Regions from separate parts of the Homo sapiens genome. Here region 1 is reported to be linked to region 2. Evidence: microRNA targets listed by miRTarBase, many of them from high-throughput screens and not tested one by one. Region 2 holds a microRNA gene; the other region holds the end of a gene's coding sequence. Distances are from middle to middle.

The links. Region 2 holds the annotated microRNA hsa-miR-604 (AGGCUGCGGAAUUCAGGAC, at 1,216-1,234, shown strand). A microRNA usually pairs through its seed, bases 2 to 8, with sites in the 3' UTR of a target mRNA and lowers its output. Matches are read on the target gene's strand: a 7mer-m8 pairs with bases 2 to 8, a 7mer-A1 pairs with bases 2 to 7 and ends in A, and an 8mer does both.
Region 1: the mRNA of HNRNPF is a reported target of hsa-miR-604. Seed matches in the 3' UTR shown: 7mer-A1 at 307-313.

The regions. Positions count from the first base shown.
Region 1 is chr10:43,383,490-43,386,901 of GRCh38, reverse strand. It overlaps HNRNPF (heterogeneous nuclear ribonucleoprotein F), which reads left to right. Exons shown (of 4, transcript NM_001098204.2): 4 at 1-1,284. The coding sequence ends at 265. Among named protein-coding and RNA genes, the nearest start is that of FXYD4, 14 kb to the right of the region's middle. RefSeq lists enhancers at 1-175, 1,913-1,992, 2,043-2,122, 2,143-2,292.
Region 2 is chr10:29,542,841-29,546,252 of GRCh38, reverse strand. MIR604 (microRNA 604) reads left to right here and starts at 1,156; the gene lies at 1,156-1,249. All of the region lies in intron 6 of SVIL (supervillin), which reads left to right.

The DNA of each region.
Region 1 (3,412 bases), 14 Mb from region 2:
GGGTGAAGCAGATGTTGAGTTTGCTACTCATGAAGAAGCTGTGGCAGCTATGTCCAAAGACAGGGCCAATATGCAGCACAGATATATAGAACTCTTCTTGAATTCAACAACAGGGGCCAGCAATGGGGCGTATAGCAGCCAGGTGATGCAAGGCATGGGGGTGTCTGCTGCCCAGGCCACTTACAGTGGCCTGGAGAGCCAGTCAGTGAGTGGCTGTTACGGGGCCGGCTACAGTGGGCAGAACAGCATGGGTGGCTATGACTAGTTTTGTTAGGAACATTTGAGTTACTTCAATCATTTTCACAGGCAGCCAACAAGCAATTAAGAGCAGTTATAATAGAGGAAGCTGGGGGACCCATTTTGCACCATGAGTTTGTGAAAAATCTGGATTAAAAAATTACCTCTTCAGTGTTTTCTCATGCAAAATTTTCTTCTAGCATGTGATAATGAGTAAACTAAAACTATTTTCAGCTTTTCTCAATTAACATTTTGGTAGTATACTTCAGAGTGATGTTATCTAAGTTTAAGTAGTTTAAGTATGTTAAATGTGGATCTTTTACACCACATCACAGTGAACACACTGGGGAGACGTGCTTTTTTGGAAAACTCAAAGGTGCTAGCTCCCTGATTCAAAGAAATATTTCTCATGTTTGTTCATTCTAGTTTATATTTTCATTTAAAATCCTTTAGGTTAAGTTTAAGCTTTTTAAAAGTTAGTTTTGAGAATTGAGACACAATACTAATACTGTAGGAATTGGTGAGGCCTTGACTTAAAACTTTCTTTGTACTGTGATTTCCTTTTGGGTGTATTTTGCTAAGTGAAACTTGTTAAATTTTTTGTTAACTAAATTTTTTTCTTAAAATAAAGACTTTTTCACAATGACTGGCACAGATTACTCAGCAAAAGATAGCAAAACGGGTGGTTGAAGATAATTCATTTTAATCGTAATGTATTTTAGTGTGAATTTAAAAATTTCATACATCAAATCTATGATCTCCCTTATATTCTTATGATGAGGCTAAATAAAAGTCTAATAAAAATGTTAAATATGTGAATGGTGGAAATGGTGACTAGCAGCACACATTCTGGGAAGCATCAAATAGACACACGGCCCCAGCCACCTGCAACTTATGTGCACTGTTGTAAACCATTCAGAATTTTCCTGCTAGGCCCTTGATGCTGGAGTCACATCTGTTGATAGCTGGAGAACTTTAGTTTCAAGTACTACATTGTGAAAGCAATTATTTTGTTTCTAGTTTTTATAAAATGCTGATTTAAACTTTTTTTTTTGGTCACGCTCCTGATTTCTGTAGGGCGCATTTGTTAATTAGGTTATGACAGGATACACATTATCAAGCTTGAGACCCATTTTCAAATTGCTATCTACCTTGGCAACAGCAATGTTGAAATTCAGGCAGCTCTATATATAGCATACAGTATTACTATCATTTTAAACCTTATGCTAAATACAAACCATCAGGACTTTAAAATGTGGAGTTTATTTAAAACCATTCTGTGCAAAAATGCTATCTACCATTGGGAATTCTTCAACTTTATTTTCCCACTTCACTAGCTGTATAATGTAACCTATATGTTATGATTTTACCAATATTAAGGGTCTTCATTAGTATCTTAAAGAGTAAATAAATGCTCTTGGTAAAACCCCTGAGAGCTGCATTAAAAATTAGGTCTGTGAAGTCTTCAGCCTTTTCTAGCCTCATTGGGCTTCAGAGGCTCACCTTAGGTACAGCCCTTCGTTCCAGTGTTCTGCATGCTTATGTTCTGCATGCTTGGATGGCCTGATGTGAGGGCAGCAGCATCACCAGGAATGGCAGGGTACAGGGACGCAGAAAGAGGCACTCGGAAGACTGGCATGGGGGAAACCTAGGGAGAACTGTCCTTGCTGTAACCCTGATCTGGGATCTCTGCCCACCCATGGGCCTACCATGCTTCAAGTGTCAGCACTGCATGGGGAAGGAGAGGCCTGTAGGTGAGGGAGACCCACAGAAACAGGTGGAGTTTCCGCTGGAAATGGGGCTGGAATGCCATGAAGATGAGACCTCAGATTTCGTAGAGTGGTGGAGATTCAAAGAGTACCTTCACAACCCTGGAAGTCTATGCTAGATTTAGGATGCATGGGTGGAAAGGGCTCCAGGGGATGGGAAAGGGAATGTGTTAGATGACCTGACATCCCAAGGTAACAACATAACATGGACAGCAAAACATCCCCTTGCTCCAGGATTGTTAACTTTTGTTGGGGAGGGACAAGTCTCTCTCTGATGCCCAGGCTGGAGTCTAGTGGCATGATATTGGCTCACTGCAGTGTCAGCCTCCCGTGCTCAAGTTATCCTCCCACCTCAGCCTCTCAAGTAGCTGGGACTGGAGGCGCACACCGCTATGCCCGGCTGATTTCTGTATTTTTTGTAGAGATGGGGTCTCACTATGTTGCCCAGACTGGTCTTGAACTCCTCAGCTCAAGTGATCTGTATTCTTCAGCCTCCCAAAGTTCTAAGATTTCAGGCATGCACCATGGCACCCAGCCATGCCCATTTGTTGCTACACACAGCCGTGCCCATTTGTTAATACTGTCCATGGCTGCCCAGGTACTACAGCAGGCAGAGAGATGGGTAGTTGTATCAGAGACCACATGGCCCACAAAACCTAAAATATTTACTGACACTACAGGAAATGTTTTTCAACCTGTGGCCTTGGGCATGACTAGGGCATTCCCTGCAAGGTAAAAGTCAAGATACTGCATCTTGTTATGTTGTAGAACCCCAAATTCAGGCTTGCGTACCTGATGTGTAGCTGATGCCAAACACCAAGACAAAGGTGCTTGGAGATAAAGGTTTATTTGATTTGGCCAAGGTGAGAAATCTGCCTTAACAAAAAGAAGCAGCGTGGAGTTTTTTTGTTTGTTTTGTTTTTTTAGAGATGGGGGTCTCCCTATATCACCCAGGCTGGAGTGCAGTGACTTTGAGAGAGTCTCAAAGTGCTGGGGTTATAAGCGTGAGCCACCGCGCACAGCCTCAGCATGGAAGTTTTGACCTCCGTTTTCAACCTGGGCCAGTTCACCCCTCCTTAGGCAACGTGGTGGTCCTCCACTCCTGGGAGGTCATAGCGAGGCCGAACTTGCTGCAGATACCCAATCGACATAGTACACTACAGCCTCGGCCTTCCAAAGTGCTGGGATTATAGGCATAAGCCACCATGCCAGGCATGGGGAGTTTTTACACAGCTAGAGACTAAGGGAGGGGCAGTTTCAGAGAACCGAGGGGGGAAAAGTCTGTGTTTCTTTAGTCTCACATAGTGTCTTGAATAACCAGACTTCTGGGTGTCTGCAGCTGGTCGCAGTGTGTTTAAAGACATTCATTACTTCTGCAAAATTTTTTTATGGCCCTGAAGTTATCC
Region 2 (3,412 bases):
GAGAGGTAGTGTTACTGATTATGAACCATTCTTTATTAATTCCACCACTGTGAGTTTTAGAATAAAATTAAAAGGGATTTAGGTCCTATGGATTATTCAGATTTTTAAACACCTGAGCTTGAGCTTCTACTACTAGAAATTCCGAATCCAAAGCTCTTGTTGAATTTGTTACTTTATGCATCTCACGTATCTATATAAAGAAAATGTGCTGTATTTTTTACTTTTATGAGTGGAGAAACTCACTGTCTTCAGTCCTGCTGTTGCCTTTGCTGAGCATCCGGCCATCACTCTCTGTTCTCAGGGAACTATGTGACTGGCAAAGGGAATGAAATGAAAGGTAGACCTCATTTTCTTTCTTTCTTTTTTCTTTTTCTTTTTTTTTTTTTTTTTTTTTTTTTTGAGACAGAGTCTCACTCTGACTCCAAGCTGGAGTGCAGTGGTGCAATCTTGGCTCACTGCAACCTCCACCTCCTGGGTTCAAGCGATTCTCCTGCCTCAGCCTCCCAAGTAGCTGGGACTACAGGCATGCGCCACCACACCCAACTAATTTTTGTATTTTTAGTAGAGACGGAGTTTCACCATGTTGGCCAGGATGGTCTTGATCCCTTGACCTCATGATACGCCCACCTCGGCGTCCTAAAATGCTGGGATTACAGGCGTGAGCCACCACGCCCGGCTGGTAGACCTCATTTTCTAGTGGTGATCCACTCTAGAAAACCCTCGTTTATTAGTTTTGTTTGTCATTACTGTACTGCAGCCCCTCACCACTCTTTTCTCTTTAGCAAATTGTGTCCTTAGTAGTGAGAACATGATATGGAGGTTTCATGCAGAGCTGAGGCTGACATTGGACCCCTGGGAGAGTTGCCATTGGTGGATGATGGTTTGGGCAGGGCTCCCCATGGATGCCAGAGAGCCGCCGATCGGCTCAGGAAATAGACCAGGGCACCCTCTGGAATGCAGCTTCTGTAACAACTTGACACGGTGCAGCCTCAGCCACTAAGAAAGGAAGGGGCTTGTGCTGGGCACTTGGAGTTTATTTCTGATTGCATTTGCTCATCTCCTGATGAGAGATTTTAGTCTAAAAACCGTCTCCAGAGCCTCAAGCTCTCTTGGCTCAGTGGTCTGTTTCCATGCACTGAGAGAGGTGTCTGCAGGAGAGCATCGTGCTTGACCTTCCACGCTCTCGTGTCCACTAGCAGGCAGGTTTTCTGACACAGGCTGCGGAATTCAGGACAGTGCATCATGGAGAAACATACATCTTGGGGGCCATTCTAAAGAACAGACATCTGGGTCCTCCTCACAGCTTATTCTATTACTGGAATGGAATTGGCTTCACCTTTCAGTCCCTGTACCCCCAAACACCTGTGCTCCCTGCCATACTCTAGAATCCCAACTGTTAAAATAGATGGGTAAGTCATTCCCTCTTTTTTTTCATTTCATCCTGTTCTTATTGTCAAGTGACAATTCTTATTCTTTTTTTTTTTTTTTTTTTTTTTTTAGAAAAGGTCTCACTCTGTTGCCCAGGCTGGAGTGCAGCAGTAGCACAATCTCACTGCAGCCTTGACTTCCTGGGCTCGAGCGTTCCTCCTGCCTCAGCCTTCTGAGTAGTTGGGACTTAACAGATGCACGCCACTATGCCTGGCTAATTTTTGAATTTTTTGGAAGAGATGGGGTTTCACAATGTTGCCCAGGCTGGTCTGGAACTCCTGGTGTTAAGCGATCCACCCGTCTTGGCCTCCCAAAGTGCTGGGACTACACGTGTGAGCCACCGGGCCTGGCAGACTATTCCTATTCATTGGACTAAATGTAAATATATCTCCCCAAACCCTAGCTACTATGTACACTAGCTAAAAACTCAAAGGTGTGTGAGATTTTAAATGCAAAATTTTTCCTTGAGCCTGTGTCCTTGCAGATTTTGTACCTGTACCTATCTGCAGAACGGTCATTAGCAGTTTTTCCAAACAAGCGACTTTTAGCAAATTAACCGTTAATTTTAATGAGATTCAAAAGTTAATAGCCATTCTTAACGTTTTATAATTAGAAGCTGTTATATAATTAGAGCTGGACACCCACATGGAGAAACTAATTTGACTGTGCTGCATTTGACTTCACTTTGGTAACAGGAAGCACTTTTTAGTCTGTAGACCCTTGGGAGTTGTAGGGAGTTAAAGCTGATCATTATATACTATTATATACTTAGGGATACAACCCAAGGGCAACCCCTGGCCTTTATGAAAACCTGGAGTGAGTTATTATTTCCTGGTAATACAATTCTCTGCCAGCCAGTTGCTGCATCAAAACAGTTCTGATACACACACCTAAAGTCACCACTTCCTCATTCTGGTCCCCAATAACCCTATAAGCCTCTCCCCTTGTAGGTGACCTCTGCCCTGTGAAGGGTTGGCTCACCCCAAGATTCCATAAAATAAGTTGTCTGTTTGTTTATGAGAACAAGGCTTTTTAAGTACCATATGTAATACATGCATATAAATGCATGTATTTAGATCAGATTTCTGGAGGAGGGATTGTAAGTTTGATGACTAAAGGAGGCAGGGGAGAGGGGAGAGATGGAGGAGGAAGAGAGGTAAGAAGGAGGGGGAGAGAGTGCGAGAGAACAGGATCATGTAGGCAAGAGAGCACGTGTACCCGGAACAATGGTTAGAAACTAACAAGGTGAAATTTAATGAAGTCTTGAATTTAGATGGAAAAAAAATCAGTGCACAAGTTCAAGATTGTGGAAACCTGATTTAACAGCAGTTCGTGGGAAACAGACCTAAGGGTTTTAGTTGACAGCAAGTTCTTTATATGACTGCCAAAGTGATTAGTCCAATCTTGGGGGACATTAATGAAAGTGAGTTGCCAATAGCATAGGTAGGCAATGGTCCCCCTGCGTCCTGCAGTGGTCAGATTACATCTGGATATCTCTTTCTAATAGGGCCACTGACAAATGTGTCCAGAGAAGAGTCCACCTTCCCATCTGCCCTGCTTTCTTGACCTTTCCAGGTTGTTTTGTTGTGTTTTGGTAACTTCTCTCTCTCTTAACCCATGTATGCCCGAGGTTGCAATTTTTTGAATTTTTGCAATCAGACCTTGGTGCTGTCCTTGAGCAGTAGAATATAAATAACTCCCACTTGCTTAGCATTCCAATAATGGAACACTAGGCATAAATGGGCTAATAGAAACTGGGACCATTTTTGGAGTCACTTCCACTTTCTGTGGTGTTTAGACTCTCGCACCAGTCTGCTCTCATTATCATATCGTGAGTTTCCCAGAGACAGAGCTGGAGCTTGGCTCAGCTTGGCAAACAGAGCCCTGATGTTATTAGTTTGGCTTCTGGGTTGCTGATGATTGTACTGGAAGGGAAAAGAGGAGAAACAGGTCATGAGCCAAATGAGGAGTCCCACAGATGCCA